5 separate regions of the Homo sapiens genome follow, and all the other regions are reported to be linked to region 1. Evidence: microRNA targets listed by miRTarBase, many of them from high-throughput screens and not tested one by one. Region 1 holds a microRNA gene; each other region holds the end of a gene's coding sequence.

Region 1 (4,121 bases):
ACTTTCTTTTTTTTTCCTTAGAGTCAGAAAAACTTTTAGGCTAAGTACCTCATTTTACTACAGCCTTTAAAAAGGAAAGACCGCAAGAAAGGAACCTTCCAGATAATGAATACTGAACAGGAAGAAGAAAAAGAAGCTGGTGCTCCCATGACAGATTATATCCCCAGAGGCTGTAAAAGAAGACAATAAACAAACAAAAAACAATAAAAGGAAGAAATTTGAGTGTGAACAGTCCCTACAGTCCCTGCTTGACAACCCCCTCAAGGACTTATCAATAAGATAGTAAGTGTCAAAGTGCTTGATACAAGTGTAGCTCAAGGCCAGGCACGGTGGCTCACGCCTCTAATCCCAGCACTTTGGGAGGCTGAGATGAGTGGATCACTTGAAGTCGGGAGTTCAAGACGAGCCTGGCCAACGTGGTGAAACCTTGTCTCTCACTAAAAATACAAACATTAGCCAGGGGTGGTGGCTCAGGCCTGTAATCCCAGCTACTCGGGAGCCTGAGGCAGGAGAACCACTTGGACCAGGGAGGCAGAAGTTGCAGTGAGCTGAGATCACGCCACTGCACTCCAGCCTGGGTGACAGAGCGAGACTCTGTCTAAAACAAAACAAAACAAAACAAAACAAAACAACCACACAAATGTAGCTCAATTAGGATAATTTATGGTCCCAGTCATGAGCACTCCACCAGGGGTCTGAGGGACTGAAGACATACCTGGGCAATAACAGAAAGAACAAGTCACTCTCGGCACAGCGACTACACACACCCTAGAGCTGTGGTTCCCTGACTTTCACCTGCTGTGCCTGCCAAGCACGCTGTGGCCAACCTGGCTTAGTCCAGGCATGGCAGGGCCCCATGCAATGACAAACAAAGCAGGAGCTTCCTGTTGGGTTTCCACGGCAGCCTCAGGGCCCAGCTAGCCAGGAAGAGTGTGGCCAGCAGGCACTGCCCCGCTCAGGTTGGGACCCAGCCAGTGAGCTGAATGTTTAGGAAGGCCTTCAGAAAATCAGTCAGCGCCTAGAGCTTTAAAAAAAAAACAAAAAAAACAATAGCCTTGAAACCTACCTGAGGTGGGGCTGCAAAATGGACACTGCGGACTCATCTGCTTAGCAACTTTACCACATCCTGAGTTGGCACGTTTTAAATACTTCACTGCACTGCACTGCCTGGTCCTTTATCCAGGGAAATTAGGAACAGATAGAATCAGAAACCACAGAGACACAGGCAAGAATGGATGCAACTAGAAATCTGTTTTGGATTATCAGACTGGAACTAGGATTTCCAGCTTGGTACATCAGACGCCTGAGCACATAAAACCCCTGCTTTTTCCTGAGCGCACCAGTTTTGCCTTCTGTGTGGAGTAAGAGTTTGACAGGCGTCCCAATTCCATGTTCATGTGAGAGCAGAACATCTTTAATGCAAAGGCCCAAAGCTTTTCCTGATTAAAGTAGTGTTAGCCTCAGAGGCCCAGGGACACGATTCTTGGAGGAAGCTATGGGGCTCAAGGAGGCCTTTCTTCCATTCTTAGTCTTCATGGATTGCGAGGATTTCCTGTGTCAGCGGAACTTAGTCTAGGAGTTCTTACCATGGGAGGACTTCGGGAGGACTTAGCATGGGAGGACTCCTAGTCTGGGAGTTCTTGGCATGGGAGGACTTCTTAGCATGGGAAGACCTCCTATGCTAAGAACCCCTAGCCTAGGTCCCACTGACGGAGGAGATGCTGACGGCCGGCAGAGGAGCCCTTCTGCCGAGAGGAAGCCAAGGTGCTGCCGGGAGGAGCAAGGGCCCTTCCTGAGGCCTTGTGGAAGCAAACACCACTCCCCACTGCCTGAGAATTGGAGCGAAGAGAGCATCTCACGATGACTCCAGGGCTACAGAGAATGGAGACCAACTTGCACTCCCTAAGGAAGTCCCAAAGAAACTTCCCTTTCAGGACCCTCTGCTCAGGGAAATGGGTGAGGCCTCCAACCTGGGTGAGGTGGACTGGGGGACAGGGCTCTGAATCCTTGGCTCTACTGCAACAAGAGAAATTATTCTCTGAGGTGTTCCATATACCGGGTTCATTTCTAACACGTTTCGGTTACAAGAGATCTGGGTCCCCCTTGATTAGAGGAGCTGTCCGGAGGCAACCTTTTCTTGGTACCTTCTTCCTGACATATCAAGACTTGCTGAGACTAGGGAGTCTTCCCTTTGGGACAAAGGGAAATTCCATTCTCTTGATCATGATTTTGACAGCTGGGAAGCCCAGCCCGGCCTTCCTCCTGGCTGTTTGGAACAGCGGACCGTGATGCTGAGGCGAGAAGGGGCAGTCCTGCCTCTGCACCTCCACTACTCACCTGAGGGACACAGACAAGATCCGTTCTATCTCGATTTTCCGCTTCAGGACTTCTTTCACCAGGCCCTTGTCTGGGCCCTGTTTGACTTTTTCTCGTCCGATTAAGTACAAGCACTTTGGGGTAAGGAGCAGGTCTCGCTTTACACCCTGTAAGGAGAGGAGCTTTAAGAAGCTGGACAGGCCAGGCATGGTGGCTCACACCTGTAATCCCAGTACTTTCGGAGGCCGAGGCGGGTGAATCACCTGAGGTCAGGAGTTCGAGACCAGCCTGACCAACATGGTGAAACCCCGTCTCTACTGAAAATACAAAAATTAGCTGGGTGTGGTGGTGGGCGCCTGCAATCCCAGCTACTTGGGAGGCTGAGGCAGGAGAATCGCTTTAACCTGGGAGGTGGAGGTTGCAGTGAGCCGAGATTGCGCCATTGCACTCCAGCCTGGGTGACAGAGCAAGACTCCGTCTCAAAAAAAGGTGGACAGACATGGTCAATGTGATGACAACAATTCACACAGTGGACTGCTGTTACCAGGACAGGGGGAAGCTGCCTTGGACAGTCAATCTTCACTACTGTTGAGAGGCCATTCCATTCATCACATGACCGGGCCCCATGACAGTGAAAGAGGGCATTGTTCATGATTATTAGGATGACATGTAAAAAATGATGACATTTGACTCTTTTTGACTTAAAAACTGGCAAACTCATATGGAGTCACTTCACATATCAGGACAGCAGGTGTAAAGGGAAAGTCACCAACACCTGTGGTGAACTTAGCAAGGATGCACTACAGCATGTTTCTAAACAGGGGGCAGTGTCTGCATATATTTTCTTGGGAGTTCATAAAATTTTCATTCTAAAATACTGATATATTGTCATTTGAATGATAATTCTCAATAATCTAATAGAAATCTACTTGGGAATTTGTGGGTAACCACTTTATAATGAGTACCGCTGCGAGAGCTAAGCACCCCTGTGTGCATCCAGGGCTGCCGTCACAGCAGCTGGTGCCATGCACAGGTTGCAAGGAATGGTTTGGTTTTAGCAAAACATGCTTCCGTTGTTTATTTCGTTAAATTTTTTTCTTGACCTCCCCGCCCCTGGCAAAAAGCCAAAAGCTCTTAACGGGTCCATGAGCTTCTGAAGCTTCAGATTTTTCTATTAGGACCAAGACTTTATCAAAAGGTATCTAAAGGAGGAGGTGAAAAATCAACTGTTCCTCCTGTGGCTGGAAAAGCCTTACTTATCAGCCACTCTGGGAAAATGGATGAGGATACTCTGCAATATTACTTGATACTCTGAATCCTTTGATTCAACGATTTCACTCCTATCAATTTCTTCTAAAAATATTAGGAGACAGATAGATACACAAAGATGTGTGAAAAGATGCTCACTGAAGTTACGATAGTAAAAAAGAAAAACTCACTAAAAATTGATTCATGAGAAACTGGTTAAAAATAATAAAGCATCTGTCAAATGGAATACTATGCAGCCATGTAAAATAACTTATATTGCTAACTGTATTACTATCGAAAATTCTCGCATTATTTAAAAGACAAACAAAAAACCACTTCAGGACATAAAACAGCATGTAATGTATATCTCATTTTTTGTAAAACTAAATACGCAAATGTATGTTTTCATAAAAACATTCTGAAAGATATGGATATACACAGAATGTTAACAGTGAATGTTTCTGGGCATAGGTGCCTGTTTATCTTTTGGTTTACTGTATTTTCTCTAAATTTTTCTACAACGAACACATTCTGATTTGGTAACAACAAAAGCAAAA
Region 2 (4,103 bases), not on the chromosome of region 1:
CAGTCTGTCTAGATTGTCATTTTCATTCATTGTGCTTCCCCATCCCTCCTTAGAGTCTAGGGAAAGGCAGCGGAGGGGAAACAAAGAGTACAGGAGATAGGTTCTTATCCCCTTTAACACTTTCTGTGAGCTGAGTCCCATTTTTGAGAATCTTTCTGTGTTAGGTTAGATGCTGAGTGTGACTTGGCAAGAACACGGCCACACGGCAGGAATGTGCAGGTTTCTGTAATGAATGGTCAGGATGTCATGTTCTAAGCTACAGAAGGGCCAAGTGTTGGTTGGCAGAGCTGGAGTCTGGGAGATTGATGATGAGCATTATTTAAACTTTGCTCTTTGTTCATCTAATTGAAATTTACACTGTGTTTTTGGCCTTGCACTGTGAGAGGTGTGCCTGGAATTACCTCATCTCCTTATGTTGTCACATACCACTTTCTTAGTTATTATTGAGTTTGTTTTGTTATTTGTATTTAAGTTGTCATCAGCTTAATTATGAACTAGCTGTCTCACATTCTTTTGTAAAATGAGATGGGGCATACATAAATAGACTTGGGAGATAAATGATTATTCCCTTATAAATGGGATCTTAGAGCGGGAGAGTACCTTAGTCTCTCTGTTGTCACCAGTTAGGAACTGTAACTGTGAACTGAAACCTTCAGTAATTCTGTGTTTGTCTCCATTTTCTTTCAGAACAGCACATTAGTTCCAGAAGAAAGATGGAAATTCTGAAAACTGAATGTCAAGAAAAGGAGTCAAGAACAATTCACAGTATGAGAAGAAAAATGGAAAAAAAAAACTTTATTTAAAAAAGAAAAAAGTCCAGATTGTAGTTATACTTTTGCTTGTTTTTCAGTTTCCCCAACACACAGCAGATACCTGGTGAGCTCAGATAGTCTCTTTCTCTGACACTGTGTAAGAAGCTGTGAATATTCCTAACTTACCCAGATGTTGCTTTTGAAAAGTTGAAATGTGTAATTGTTTTGGAATAAAGAGGGTAACAATAGGAACAAAGGCCTGATTGAGAGCTTATTCTCATACTTTTGGGTGGTGGGGTCCTTGGGTATATGACATGAGGACTTAGTTGGAAATGCTGTTGATGCCAGCATATTTCTCCAGGCCTTTCTTGGTCCTTCTTGCCCCTTGCTCCTAACAGAACTGAGAACTGCCTGGAAAGGCCAGCTTCCTTTTTTCTTCTCCAGCAGTGAGCACCAGCTGTCTGCATAGGAGCCCTGTTGGTATCTGAAGGCCCCATTTGGACCTCTAGGGGTCCAAGGGGATAGGTTTTTATCCCCTTTAACATTTTCTGTGAGCTGAGTCCCATTTTTGAGAATCTTTCTGTGTTAGGTTAGATACTGAGTGTGACTTGGCAAGAACACAGCTAAACAACAGGAATGTGCAGGTGGACTGCAGCTAGGACCTCTGCTCAAGGCTCTTGTCTTGGGGCCAGGCATGGAGGCTCACGTCCGTAATCCCAGCACTTTGGAAGGCCGAGGCAGGGGGATCACTTGAAGTCAGGAGTTTTGAGACCAGCCTGGCCAACATGGTGAAACCCTGTCTCTACTAAAAAACCAAAATTAGCCAAGGGGTGGGCATGGTGGTGCATGCCTGTAATCCCAGCTACTTGGGAGGCTGAGGCAGGAGAACAGCTTGAACTTGGGAGGCGGAGGTTGCGGTGAGCCATTGCACTCCAGCCTGGGCCACAGAGCCAGACTCCATCTCCAAAAAAAAAAAAAAAAAAAAAGACTTGCATGGAGATTTGTTGCAACATGAATTTTCAAGGGACACAAATTCAAACCATAGCACTGACCACTTGAGTGACTTTAGTCTAGAAGGCCACATCTCAAGAATGCCCCCTCTGAAGTTGTGCCCATTACATGAGGTTATATAATAGCACAGAGAGAAGTAATACTGCATAGCATGGTTGACTGCGTAGACTTTGGTTCCAGGCAAACCTAGTGTTGCCACTTACTAGGGTGAGGGACCTTGGGCAAGTAGTTTAACCTCCGTAAACCTCCTTTTGTGTTTCTGTAAAAGAGAGATGATAACTACCTACCTCATAGGATTAAAGGAGTTGAATGCTGACGCAGCTTAGCACTTGGCATCTTTCCTGATTGACCTACGGTTATGTGCCTTGGCCCATTGCCTCTAGTTCTAGAATGGCAAAAACTGCAATTACTTTTGCACCAACCTAATATTAATTGAAACATAATAAGTTTAGTTAACTTGTGAAATATGGTAATCCTCATAGTATTTATTGAATTGGGGGTCTGGAAGTTGTTTTATTTTAATCAGATTGCTTCCCAACTAGCTGGACCTTACTACAGTGAAGAAATTGGGATTTTGATTGGGAAAAAGGGAAAGAAGATTCTAGAACTCTATGCCGTTCTGAATGGGATCCTATAGGTAAGAGGATGATGTGGGCAGTTACAGGGATGCCTCTAAGATGGGAAGGAGGCTTCTCCTTCCCAGAGGTTGCAAACTTGTGATCTGTAGTGTTTTTTTAAAAATTGAGTAAGTTGCCAACATTTGAAGACAGATTTTATATAAAAATCTTGGTTTTGGATTCTGGATTCTCCTGAAAGAGAAAACTAGAGCTGTCCACGGCGGGCCTGATTCCTGAACGGCAGCAGTCAGCTGACACTGAATAGCAGCTCGTCCCTTTGGATGGAGCCTGCAAGCTCCAGCTTGTCAGCCCCTCCCCGCACAGGTGTCCACATACAGGACACTTGCGCCAGTCCACCTGGCGACTGTGCTTCTCTGATACCTGCCTGGCTCCCATAGGCATATACCTTTGGGATCCTCCACTTTTTAGTTTCTTATCCCACTCGGAGGGGAAGGGGTGATGGTGGTTTCCTGTTGCTCTTGGGCGGCTCCTAGTGTTCCTACTTAGGTGTGCTGGGACCTCAGCCGCTCAGACTGGAGAGGAAAGAGAGCCCCAGCAGCGTGTGGGATGAGAGCAGGGACACTTGCCACCTATCACCAGACCTGTGCGGGCCTGGAAGACAGACTGGGTGCGGGGCTGGTGGACAGTGGTGTGGAGCAGGGGTAGTAGGGCCTGAGGGTGGAAGTACAAAGGCTGCTGGGTGTCCTGGTCACTGGGAACAAAGGACAGCCAGTGGCTGGAAGGAAGGAAGTCGGGAAACAGCTTTTTGGAGAAACGGCTGGCACAGCTAAGTAAGGGGTTCCCGGGCTGGTTTGGGGCTGGCCTGCAGACTCAGATGGGAGCTGGAGAACAGAGCCCAGTAAACATTGCCATGTGCCAGGCTGTGTTCTGTGTCCAGAGCTACCACAGGGAGCAAGACAGATCCAGTCCCTTCCCTTGGTCCAGGTACAGCCCACGGGCACCCAGCTGAGGGAGAAAGGAAGCAGTGATCACACATGTGAGAAGGGCCTCAGAGGAAGCAGTTCTTACCTTGATGGCTTGGGAGGTCTCAGCTGAGACCTGAAGAATGAGAAGGCGCCTATGCCAAGCTGAGGAAGAGCACTCCGGCCAGAGAATCAGCCAGCATGGAGGCTCTGGGGCAAGAGCACGGCACATTCTGACTGGAAGCAGGCCAAGCAGCCAGGGTGTCACTGGCAGGAACGGCATCCTCGCTGGGATAGAAGCCAGAACAAACTTGGCTTTTAGGGGCTGTGGTAAAGGGGACTGATTTTTCTCTTAGGACCTTTTTTAAAACAAAACAAACAAAGAGATGGGGTCTTGCTATGTTGCCCAGGCTGACCTTGAACTCAAGGGATCCTCTTGCCTCAGCCTCCTGAGTAGCTGGGACTACAAGCATGCACCATCACGCCTGGCCAGCCTGAGTTTTATTTTGGGGTATAGCAGAGGCAGATGCTGTCTGTCTGACCCTGCCCACTGGGCAAAGCCTTTTTTTTTATTTTTTATTTTTTATTTTATTTGAGACAGGGTCTTGCTCTGTTGCTCAGGCCAGAATGCAGTGGTGCAATCACGACTCACTGCAGCCTCAACCTCCCAGGCTCAGGTGATCCCCCCACCTCAGCCTCTGGAGTAGCTGGGACTACAGGCGCGTGCCACCACACTGGGCTAATTTTTGTATTTTTGGTAGAGATGGGATTTTGCAATGTTGCCCAGGCTGGTCTCATAC
Region 3 (4,121 bases), not on the chromosome of region 1:
TTTCAAAAGTCTGATTTGGGGGAAGTAAAGTCACTTATTTTAAGCTACCTTAGTATAGCACCTAAAGAGTTACTTTGTGAATTTTGTATGGCTGCAATTGAAAAAAAAAATTGCTCACTTTCACTTGCATTTAAAAATCAGAGCTCTAAAAGTTAATTCTTGTTTTTTATTGGGAAACTCTGAGAGAAACATTAATTGATGAGGGTAATAATTTTGGTATAAAGCCAGTGAAATTTTAATGCTTAACATGTTGGGTTTTTTAAAATTACTGATTGAAACTCTTCCTTTTCTATTTAAAGATGATGAAAAAGATGAGCATACTTCTAAAAAGCGCAAAGTAGAGCCAGGAGAACCAGCAAAGAAGAAAAAGTAGAAACAAATGACCAGAATTTCTGTACTGCTAAACTTGTTGAAATGTTTCTTTGGACAGATTAAGTTGATATTGTGGGTTATTATGCCACATCTCCATGAAAATGCATACGTTAATGAACTAATAAGTATTGCCTCAAGAACTTTCCACTATAGAATTCTTTTTTTATTTAAAACATGTATGTATTTAAAACTCAACTGGTGACTTGTGATTGTGAAATTGATAACACTTGGATGCATTCTTGCTCTCACAGAATTGGTGACATGCTTTGAGAGTTTTGTCACATGTTGACATGCCAATGTTCTTATAAACCTTTTATAAAGGAATATATTTTTAAAGTAAATATATTGTAATGTACTGTGAACTTGTAGGGTGCTTTTCAACAGTCTTTGTACAGTGTAAATAGATCATGGAAATAAAATTACTTATTCAATATTACTATTACTGTATAACATTAACATTTGAATGTTTGTCTGTGACAAGTACCCTATTTGTCGTGTGACATTTTAAGTTGTAATAAGAAGTATTACCATTTAAAGAGTGCCTCCTGTGTTCCAGGTGCTTTGTGCATATATTTTCTCTGATCCTTAAACAACCTAGCGCAAGGTATTATTAGTATTCTCATTTTATAATAAAGAGTGCTTGAGTAGCTTGTCTGATGTTACACAGCTAGTGAGTGGTTCATTTGGAATTTAACTTGGGACACTTGAACCTCAAAATCATCACATTAAACCACCTGTCCACCAGTCAAAATTTAGTCATCTTTCAGGAATGACATCAATTGTCATCTCTTCCAGGTACTTTTTTCTGTTGTACCTGGAGATCCGTTAGTAGAGATCTTTTCCTCTCCTGATTGGATGACTGTACTTGTCATCTGTGCTTTATGGTTATTCATTAATTTCTTTATTAAATTGTAAGTTTACAGGACATTCAGTTAAATTTGAATTTCAGATAAATAATGTTTTAGTATATTTAATATTCAGGACATATACAAAAAATGTGTTTATCTGAAATTCAAATTTAACTGAACATCTTTTATCTGGTAACCCTACTTCTACATGTTTTCTCTACCCAGCTTCTATTTTAATGCTTTGCGTATAGTAATAATAAAATGAACAAGAAGTAGTTGGGAAGGTGTGATCGTTGAGTTCCAAAATGCAGTTATTTGTAGCATTTTGAACAATAAAAAGGTTACACTCTGCATCAATCTTTCCATGAATCTGAAGCCCTTAAGAGATAAGAATTACAGAACAGTGCACATTCAGTGTATAAGAACAAGACAGCCAAGCATGGTGGCTTATGCTTGTAATCCCAGCACTTTGGGAGGCCAAGGTGGGAGGATAGCTTGAGGCCAAGAGTTGGAGACCAGCCTAGACAACATGATAAGACCTCATCTTTACAAAAAATAATTTAGAAAGAAAAAGACATAATCTAAGTATTTTTTTTTAAATCTGTTTTTCCCCATTGTGGAAGATAAAATTTGAACAATTACGCGAGATTTGTTTACCTAGGCATGTGTATCAAGTAGATTAAAATTCATAAAAGTCATTAAGAGTGATTGCATCAGCCATGGTGCTTTGTGGAATGAAGGTCCATAACAGCATGATGGCTTCCAGTATATCATCGAGTTTAGAAAAACCAATTCTATAGCTGCCCATCCTCCAGGTTTGCAAATATATGAATCCCAAAATTGAAGTAATTGCTAAAGCAAGAATATGTTTTTTTAAGATTGTAGTCTTTGTAATGAATTTGGAAATCTGTGGTATCATATACTAAGGAGTGGCATCAAGTGACAAAGCAAGACCATAGTATGTACATGACACCAAACACAACCAAATCAAGTTATATTTGTGAAGTTGTGATTCCCAAGCTCTGGAGAAATCTAAAATTTGGATGCATGTGTTGGTGGAGCAAATATCTCAGAAGTTACTGAAATATTGCAAGGTTCTTAAGTTAGCATGAAAGCAAACTTTTTTCTCTCTTTCCTGGGAGATGTGCAGAGTATGTTGTATGAGGAGGAAGACAGGACTTAGGGAAGAGGCTAAATATTTTGGAGCAAGTCTGACTCAGCCATTTGTATCTCCTGGTTGGAAAACGGACTGTCATATCACTCTACATTCATCATCACATTAGAGAATAGATTATTTTCCCCTTTAGAGATGTCCTGGGAACGTGTTTGCACAAGTGTCCATGTGGGTACTGAGGTGAAGTTTGGTTGAGCTAGTGGAAACCTAGTGGGGAAAAGTCTTAAAAATCCATATACATAAGAAAAATCATCTGTCCAAGTATCTTTCATTTTAGAGAATCGAGTCACTTGATACTTCTGATTGTTTCCTGCACTTTAAGTTAAGCCTGGGCAACATGTTGAGATCCTGATCTGGTTTGGCTGTGTCCCCAACCAAATCTCACTTGAATTGTAATTCCCACAATTCCCACGTGTCATGGGTGGTGACTGAATTATGGGGGTGGGTCTTTCCGGTGCTGTTCTTATGATAGTGAATGAGTCTTACGAGATCTGATGGTTTTAAAAACCATCAGTGCAGGGAGTTGCCCTGCACAAGCTCTCTGCCTGCTGCCCTCCACATAAGATGTGTCTTGCTCCTCTTGCCTTCTGCCATGATTGTGAGGCTTCCTCAGCCATGTGGAACTGTAAGTCCAATTAAACCTGTTTCTTGCAAATTGCCCAGTCTCTGGTATGTCTTTATCAGCAGCATGAAAATGGACTAATACAGTTAATTTGTACCAGTAGAGTGGGGTACTGCTGAAAAGATACCCAAAAACGTGGAAGTGACTTTGGAACTGAGTACAAGGCAGAGCTTGGAATGTTTGGAGGGCTCAGAAGAAGACAGGAAAATATGGGACAGTTTGGAACTCCCTAGAGGCTTGTTGAATGGCTTTGACCAAAATGCTGATAATGATATGAACAATGAAATCCAGGCTGAGGTGGTCTCAGATGGAGATGAGGAACTTGTTGGGAACTAGAGCAAAGGTCACTCTTGATATGTTTTAGCAAAGAGACTAGTGGCATTTTGCCCCTGTCCTAGAGATTTGTGGAACTTTGAACTTGAGAGAGATAATTTAGGGTATTTGGTGGAAGAAATTTTTAAGCAGCAAAGCATTCAAGAGGTTACTTGGATGCCATTAAAGGCATTCAGTTTTATAAGGGAAGCAGAGCTTGAAAGTTCAGAAAATTTGCAGTCTGACAATGCCATAGAAAAGAAAATCCCATTTTCTGAGAAGAAATTTAACCTGGCTGCAGAAATTTGCTTAAGTAATGAAGAGCCAAATGTTAATCCCCAAGACAACGGGGAAAATGTCTCCAGGGCAGGTTAGAGGTCTTCACAGCAGCCCCTCCCATCACAGGCCCAGAGGCCTAGGAGGAAAAAGTGGTTTTGTGGGCTGGACCCAGGATTCCTGTGCTGTGTGCAGCCTAGGGACTTGGTGCCCTGTATCCCAGCCACTCCAGCCATGGCTGAAAGGAGCCAACGTAGAGCTCAGGCCATGGCTTCGGAGCATGCAAGCCCCAAGCCTTGGCAGCTTCCATGTGGTGTTGAGCCTGCAGGTACACAGAAGTCAAGAATTGGGCTTTGGGAACCTCTGCCTAGATTTCAGAAGATGTATGGAAACAACTGGATTCCCAGGCAGAAGTTTGTTGCAGGGATGGGGACCCTCATGGAGAACCTCTGCTAGGGCAGTGCAGAAGGGAAATGTGGGGTTGAAACCCCCAGAGTCCCTGCTGTGGCACCACCTA
Region 4 (4,121 bases), not on the chromosome of region 1:
TTAATTGTTAACCAGTCTGAAACATTAACAATTGATGTTATTATACCATTATCCTCATTTTATTGTAGAAAACCTTATTGCAATTTTATGGCCCTTTGATTAATGCAGTATTTCTTTTTTAATGCAGGCAAATGGTTTAACTATGGAATTATCTTCCTCGTCTTGATTTTGGATCTTAATATGTGGAAGAACCAAATATTTTATAAACCTCATGAATATGGGCAATATATCGGCCCGGGGCAGAAGATATATACAGTGAAAGACTCAGAAAGTTTAAAAGATTTGAACAGAACCAAGCTATCCTGGGAATGGAGGTCCAATCACACTAACCCTCGGACTAATAAAACATATGTTGAGGGAGACATGTTCTTACACAGCAGGTTCATAGGAGCCAGTCTTGATGTCAAGTGTCTGGCCTTTGTTCCAAGCCTGATAGCCTTTGTGTGGTTTGGATTCTTTATTTGGTTCTTTGGACGATTTTTGAAAAATGAGCCACGCATGGAGAATCAAGACAAAACTTACACTCGCATGAAAAGAAAATCTCCATCAGAACATAGCAAAGACATGGGAATCACTCGAGAAAACACCCAGGCTTCAGTAGAAGACCCCTTGAATGACCCTTCTTTGGTTTGCATCAGGTCTGACTTCAATGAGATCGTCTACAAGTCTTCCCACCTAACCTCGGAAAACTTGAGCTCACAGTTGAACGAATCTACTAGTGCAACAGAAGCTGATCAAGACCCAACGACTTCTAAAAGTACACCTACGAACTAGACTCGGAGATAGACTTGGAGATAACACAAAAAGCAACCTTGAGTGTAACTTTAAAAATTTAGTCTTTCCTTTTGTATATGTAAGGTTTACGTAGTGTTAGGTAAAAATATGAACAATGCCACAACGGTGCTCAACATGCTTTTTCTAGGATTCATTGTTTTCTATTTGTATTATAATACACGTGCCTACTGTATACTCAACAGTCCTCTAGAGATTGCTTTTCACAATTGCACAAGCTATTACTGACTTTACAGCATAGTGGAAGATTAGCTGATGACCCATGTATCTGATGTTCAACCATAGTGGTGCCTTGAGACATTAAACTGTTTTTAACTGTACCAGAAATGAAGTGTGGAACAGTTACCTAACCTATTTCACATGGGCGTTTTGTATACAACTATTTTGATCTACACTTGATGTCTGAGCAGAAAACAGAAATAGCTAAATGTGACTCAGGAAGTATCTCTTGGTTTCTTATTCAGCAGCAGAGTTGGTGACTTTGACAACTGGACTGCAGAGAAACATGGTGATCACCTTTTAATTTTTATTGGCTGTCTGCCAAATATAAATACAGATGCAAAATTCAGTAATAGGAGATCCATAACCCAACATGGGTCACTACTCGTGAAATGTGACTTTCTCCCACCAGTAATTGAAATGAGGTGATGATACCTAATTATGTTTTCCTAATTAAAGATAAATTGCTACTTGATTAAAAATCCTGCCCTTCACCTTTGGGAACAAAGGTTAAGAGACACAGTTGGGCGAACTCTCAAATTTATTGGCATTTACACAAAGTCCCAGACAACCAAGGAACTGAAGTTTTCATCATATGAGAGCAGCACATCCCACCATTTACAATATTCGTATATCTTTCTGCAAATATGGCTCTGGATAGTGAAAATTGAAAAACATATGCCAACCCTGAGCAAGGGAACTCCTCAAAAAATCATGCAGCGGAACCTTGTCAGGTAGAGAAGCCGTGCATGAAAGAATTTGTTTAATGTCTTGTTTTGCGTATGTGTTTTTTGTTTTTGTTTTTTAAGAACTAAATATTGCACATTAATAAATAAGAATTATACAGCAGTGATTATGTGATGTAGTTTTTTGTTTAATTGTATCTTGGCTTAAGAAAAGTCCATTTACATGGGGTTTTTATAGCTTGATGCCAGGCAAGTTAAGAGAAGGCACACTGCCAACTTGCTTTCAATTTTGTTCCATAAATTGTGGTTACGTTTCTTGAGGGGGTGAGGGAGATCACTTTTAAGGAAAAATTATTTTCCTGTCACACACTGACATAGCTGCATTTTTTCTTTATGATTTTTTAAATCTCTCTTGTTTTGATCTATCTACTTTTAAGCTTGCAGCATACTGAATTTAGCATGCATAATAGAACTATGCATTTATCTGTCACTTGAGAGCCAGCTTTAATAAACATCTTTACTAAGCATTTGGAACCATGCCCCTGCTGTTACTTTTACCTTTAATAGCCATGCATGGTGCTACTTAGAATCATAAACATATCTGACACACACACACACACACACACACACACACACAAATGCAGAGATCAAGCTCACTATAGTAACCCATTGCCCATACTATCTAAAGGAACTTACCATGTATGTCTGATAGGTGGCAACACTAGCTATTACTAAATTTTGGCAGCCTAGAACATTCAACTTTTAGCTCTGGGACATGTAAATAATAACACCTAGTACCACATTTTTATTTATTCTGAAAGTCATTGTCTTATAGAATGACGAAAGAAGTTGATTTAGAAAGTAGACGTTTATTATCAATATGCATGACTTATAAAAATATTATTTGAGAATTTTTACATGGGTATTAATGGAAAATGTTTTAATGAGAAAATCTAATTAGCAGAAGTAAGACAGAAAAAAAATAACAAACTTAGAACAACATGTTTATGTGTTTCTAGGGATTAGCTAGAAAAACTATTAAAAAAATGAAAATATATATTTAAATTTTCATAAATTTAGTAACAAATGGAACAATTTCCAAGGACATTTTAATAGTCAAACAAGACTTCAGCCTTCTAAGGCTTCCAACTGTTGAATTGTATATACTGATAGTGACCTTTTCTTACCTACATATGGATCTACTTTCTTCTTTTGCTGCCTCTTTTGGGTATTGCATTTATACCAAGTAAAGATACTAAAATGAAATAAACTAAAAATTAAATCCATTCACATTCAGTCTTGAATCCTGAGTCATACCAATAGACTGAGACTCTACAGAGATTTTTGAATACCAAAACTTTTAAACTATTAAGGACATTTTAAAAAGAGATGTGTAGCAATCTCAGAAATTGAGGTTAAAAAAAAGGATTTAAAAAATTACTAAGCACAGATTCTAAAGAAAGCTTAACAAATGTGATGTCTTAATTGCAGTGATGCTTAAGTACTATAAACAATTATATTTCTACTGTTCAGTAATTACAGTACTTTCTTCCACATAGTGCAGAATTTGAACTAATTTGACATAATTTTAGTATCCTACATTTATAAAGTACTTCATTAGTAGTTGAAATGGAAAATTAAATAAACACTATGAATTTGTGCCTGATAATATACACTTAGACATAAATCTCATCACCACATGTCTATTTGTATTGTATAATCATAATTAGTTACCCTATTTTCTCCCCATGGTAGCTACTTATGTTACCTTATCTTTTAGCATAGCTGAGATCACCAGCAAATTCTGTTTAAAATGTTAAGAATTATTTCTTCTCCATCTGCCCTAAGAGTCAACCAGGTACAAATTTTTTTTATTTTTGTAGTATCAGATTTCACACAAGTAATGTCCAAAAACACTGCACCACTGGCTGACAGTACAGTGGAAAGAAGTCCAACACAGGCATTCAGATTTGAAGGAGGGAGTCAATACATGGTAGCTCACCACTGGGCTCCATAAGCAATTTTATCACATTATTTGGCTTCCCCATGGGTCACCAACACAGCCCAATATGAAATATGAGAAAGACAATGCTAATAAATCCTAAATGTCTCTATAACTGATAATTCAGGAGGCCAACTGGATTATCTGACATTCAGCTAAGACCTCAGTACCCTGCCATTGTTTCTCATCTGCCTTCACTCTGAACTAACCCTTATTTTAAATTTCAACTCATGCTTAGGCAGCTACAAGTAGGGTATTATGCTTATATTGGTTTTTCCCTCTGAGACTGACTTGGCTCACTACTCTATCTGGCCTGATTTCTTCGAGCTTTGTCCCTCAGAACCCAACTCTGACCTATTAGCCAGCCCGTACCCTTGAGACAGCAAGAGCAACTCAATTAATTCTGCAGCAGATAAACTGGC
Region 5 (4,117 bases), not on the chromosome of region 1:
GGAGTTTTACCATCTTATGTTCCCGCTCCAAGTCACTGACTTTGGACTGGAATTTTGGCTTGGAGAAAACGCAGCTGGCCTCAGCACCACCCTGGAGCCTCTTCCAGCCAGTCCTGGCAGAAGGACTCTGAATGCCTGAACCCACAGGTTGGTACCCGTGACTCCACCAAGTCTCCACGCAGGGACGGCGTGCATCGGGAAGAGGGGGCATTTCAGGCAAAGGCTAGTGCAGCACAAATGCCATCCATGGGGCAGCCTAGGCTGGGGCCATGCAGAAGAGCCATAGAGCACCATGCAAGGCCGCCTTTTGATAGTCACAAGGCAGTCTGTGACGTGACTCAGTTTCATACAAGCTGCTTCTTCTGCCTGGGACGCTCCTGATCTGTTGGCACTGTTTCTTAACTTCGGTCTTAAAGTCATTTCTAATTAAAGCAAGCTCCCCTGTTAGTGTCTATATTATAGGATCCTGTTTGTATTCTTTTAGCGTTTCTCAACACAGGGATCACTACATATTTTACTTTTTTGAATGTTGTCTGTCTCCCCGCAAATAAAATAACTCCAGGAGGACAGCGGTTTTTGCTTTGGTCACCATTAGAGCCCTGGTGCCAGGAACAGTGCCTGGCACAGTGTAGGCACACCATAAGGGTTTGTTGAATGAATAAGAACAATTTTGCAAGTTTTGTCCCTCCTGAGTGGGTGATTGGTTGCTGGGAGTTGATAGGCAAGGCCACTGACCATCCAGTGGGCTGTGTGGTAAGAAGGGGGTGATTCCTAAGAAATACTTGTGGATGGCTGCCTGGCCCAGTGCATGCAAGGAAGTACAGAAGTACAGAGAGCAATAGAAATGAGTTTTTATTTGTAAAAAGTTACAAAATGATATTGTACAAAAATAAAGTCTGTAGAGAACTTTGGTTTTATAACACAAACGACCAAGACAGATCAGAGAAGTCAGAACTTCCAAACAAGTGCACTCCTTACGGTATCAGATGGTGATCGCAATGATAAAGAAAAATCACAAACTTTACCCTTTTGTGGATTTGGTGGAGCAACTTGCTTCCATTAAAACCTGCTTGTGGTGTGTAGGTGATGCCGGGAACGAGCTATTGACACCCCTTGGATCCTACAGCTTTTTTGGGCAGGGACTCTCCATGGGGAGTTGTTGGGGGGGGTCACTGAGGTTGAAGCCTGGGAACAGTGGCCATCGCACTGCCAAGGTTCTCTGAATGGGACAGATGCCCCTGGGGCCACATCCAAATTGTGCTCCACGAATGACTGGATGGCTGGGGTTTGTCACTGTTTCGAGCAGTCTGAATTCTCAGCAAGATCCCAAGACAGTGTGAGAGGGAAGGCCTTTCCTCCATTTCCCAGGCGAGCAAGGGGAGCAGAAAGGACAGAGAAGGGCAGAACCATGAAGAATTTGGGTATTTTGGGGGAAGGGGATCAGATGTCTGGTAACTGCTGCTTCTTGTTACTATGATTATTTGATGGAGGCCAGTATTTCATTTAATTGCTAAATCTGTCATAGTTTTATACTAGTAGCCACTAAGGTAGGTAGTAATAGATTATCTCCTTAATGAAAATCCCTTTTATGAAATGCGTAACAAGCTGTAATACAGGGCCTAGTGTGTCATACATGTGTTGGCTGCCCGATAAATTCACAATCTAGGGCATGGAGGAGGTGGCTGTTCCCGCCCCTATGCTTCCTCCTGCTCCAACCTCTTTTTTTTTTTTTTTTTTTTTTTGAGACAGGGTACCGCACTGTCACTTAGGCTGGAGTGCAGTGGCATGATCACAGCTCACTGCAGCCTCGACCTTCTGGACTCAAGTGATCCTCCTTCAGCCTCTTGAGTAGCTGGGACCACAGGTGTGCACCATCATGCCTGCCTAATTTTTAAAGTTTCTGTAGAGACAGGGTCTCCCTATGTTGCCCAAGCTGGTCTCAAACTCCTGGGTTCAAGAGATCCTCCCACCTTGGCTTTCCAAAGTGTTGGGATTATGGGTGTGAGCCGCTGCACTGGCCCCGACCACCTTCATTTAAAGGCAGCACGCTCCTAAGTATGAGGCTCCATGTGTGTGGCTGTGGCTGGTCCCAATATGGCTTCCTCAGCACCCTTCTCAGCCATCTGCTCCCCAGGGAGCTGTCAGGTGTTTGGGTATATAGGAGCAGCAGCTGTTGACCCCCGGTGACAGCCCAGGGGTTGTACAGGACCTGGTAGACCCTACCTCTGGAAGGCCCCTGTGTCTCCCGGGCTGCACTGGGCAGCCAGCATATTCTCGGGAGGGCAGTGGGTGGGCAGGGATGGAGGGAGTCGGTAGAACGGCAGCTACCTGACAGCATTGTCGACATTACTTTTAGGTCAGCATTAAATCCAGGACTACCTACTAAAAGGAACTGAACCTTTTCTACATATGGTTATGCATAGTACAGATAGGTATACGTGGAGGGGACTAAGAGCTTAAAGACAACAGGAAGTGGAGCCCACGACATTTCTGTTCAGCAATGGAGCAAGGAAGAAATAAAGTCAAGTGCCAGTGGTCTCTGCACGCTGCTCCAGGAAAGGGGGCTTGCCTGAGATGCTCCACAAATAAAAATTGGGAAAAATGCTGAAATCTGGGGAAAATTAATGACAAATTTTCTTAAAAAGGTAAAGTAAGTGATTTTTGCCTGGCAAAAAACTTTTTAATACTTTGAAAAGCATGGACCCTTGTTCCCAATTCAAATTTCCTTTTGTCACCTTTCTTTGCATTTTGCGAGCACATATACTTTGGCACCTTTGAAAAGAAACTTTAATAAATAAGGGAAAAAAGAGAAATTCATTAGTGAACGGTAATAAATAACAATAACTTAAATTTCAATAAATATCTTCTCTATATTTCTGTATCTGAAACAGATGCATTGCATCGAGTAGCTTCTCTGGTCACTGGTGACCACGCATCAACGGAGCTGGTTATGTAACATCTGTCTCTCTGTAAACCAACAGGCCTGAGGGGCTCTCCCTGCCCGGGGGCAGTTCGGGGCCTTCCCCGATTCTCTCCTACAAGAATGCTGGCGAAAACCACAACTCGTTTCCTGTTTCCAAGGACATAAAGGAAATACCTTCAGGTTTGTGTTTAATCATGAGCACAGCCTTTTTGGTTCCTAGCCAACTTCTTCCCACCCCACACACCGTGATGGAAATCAATCACCAACCGTTGGCAAAAATGCTGGTTGTAGTAAACCTCGGGCCTCAACTTTCAAATGCAAAGGTGATTATCTCTTGTATCTTTGCTTTTTTTTTCCCCTCTCCTTTCCAGGGTATGTCTCCACTGAGTGACAGAAAAATAAACCTCTTACTTTCAGCAGTAAAACGTAATAACAAGGAACAACACCAGGATCTCTGTTTCCCTGGTGTCTTCGGACACATGAAAACAAATCACAGGAGATACACTGGTTTGGTTCAAGTGCATCCACCGCAACCGCGCCGGTAATCAGTGATGGTGGACTGTATCAGCTGAAATGGTGGCAATAGCCAACCAGGAACATCAGCCCTGAGCTTCTAGTGACATCGGCTGCCATCCTGGAGAATCCAGAGGGCTGTTTTCTCTCTCTCCTGTCCAGTTGTCTGTAGCTGGATCTCCCTCTACCAGGCTCCCATGATGGCTGCCTTCCTCCTCCTCCTCCTCCTCCTCCTCCTCCTCCTCTTCTTCTTCCTCCTCCTCCGCCTCCTTGGTCCTCATCTTCCATTCTGGGCAAACATTTCCTGGGAACCTTGGTCCCTTTCTTTGCACTGTAGCAGGAATGCAATACACAGCAGTCTCTGGAGCCGGAGTCAGATACATCCACACCTTTTAGCGGAATGCTTTCTTAGAATATGGTAAACCAGGTTATCATCTAAAAACGACAGGTCATCATCAAAGGCGATGGGTCTGCAACATGCCTGCCCTACTTTGTCACTCACCAGCCTTCTATTTCTGGATAAGTTTTTCAATATTTTGTCGTACGTTGTCTCAGCTGCATCGCAAGAGCCGCTGCAGTACCTAAAAATCAGTTCCTCCTTGGTTTCATAGCCCAGACCCAAGTCAGTGACATTTAAATGTATTGCAGTTAAGACACAACCCCGGTTTTTGCCCCTCTGGC

Evidence for each region. The annotated mature microRNA hsa-miR-2116-5p reads GGUUCUUAGCAUAGGAGGUCU and lies in region 1 at 1,670-1,690, opposite strand. An mRNA with a match to its seed (bases 2 to 7 or 8) in the 3' UTR can be bound and repressed. Matches are read on the target gene's strand: a 7mer-m8 pairs with bases 2 to 8, a 7mer-A1 pairs with bases 2 to 7 and ends in A, and an 8mer does both.
Region 2: the mRNA of RPN2 is a reported target of hsa-miR-2116-5p. Seed matches in the 3' UTR shown: 7mer-A1 at 752-758.
Region 3: miRTarBase lists C1orf52 as a target of hsa-miR-2116-5p. Seed matches in the 3' UTR shown: 8mer at 1,640-1,647.
Region 4: the mRNA of TMEM117 is a reported target of hsa-miR-2116-5p. Seed matches in the 3' UTR shown: 7mer-m8 at 1,817-1,823.
Region 5: miRTarBase lists GDNF as a target of hsa-miR-2116-5p. The part of its 3' UTR that is shown has no 7-base or 8-base seed match.

What each region holds. Positions count from the first base shown.
Region 1 is chr15:59,169,560-59,173,680 of GRCh38, forward strand. It overlaps MIR2116 (microRNA 2116), which reads right to left and starts at 1,703; the gene lies at 1,624-1,703. MYO1E (myosin IE) reads right to left here. Exons shown (of 28, transcript NM_004998.4): 22 at 2,338-2,483.
Region 2 is chr20:37,240,616-37,244,718 of GRCh38, forward strand. It overlaps RPN2 (ribophorin II), which reads left to right. Exons shown (of 17, transcript NM_002951.5): 17 at 688-1,004. The coding sequence ends at 700. Among named protein-coding and RNA genes, the nearest start is that of GHRH, 19 kb to the right of the region's middle.
Region 3 is chr1:85,248,881-85,253,001 of GRCh38, reverse strand. It overlaps C1orf52 (chromosome 1 open reading frame 52), which reads left to right. Exons shown (of 3, transcript NM_198077.4): 3 at 300-3,049. The coding sequence ends at 373. Among named protein-coding and RNA genes, the nearest start is that of C1orf52, 8.7 kb to the left of the region's middle.
Region 4 is chr12:44,387,899-44,392,019 of GRCh38, forward strand. It overlaps TMEM117 (transmembrane protein 117), which reads left to right. Exons shown (of 8, transcript NM_032256.3): 8 at 128-1,860. The coding sequence ends at 774. Among named protein-coding and RNA genes, the nearest start is that of NELL2, 490 kb to the right of the region's middle.
Region 5 is chr5:37,811,842-37,815,958 of GRCh38, forward strand. GDNF (glial cell derived neurotrophic factor) reads right to left here. Exons shown (of 3, transcript NM_000514.4): 3 at 836-4,117. The coding sequence ends at 3,810. Among named protein-coding and RNA genes, the nearest start is that of GDNF-AS1, 26 kb to the right of the region's middle.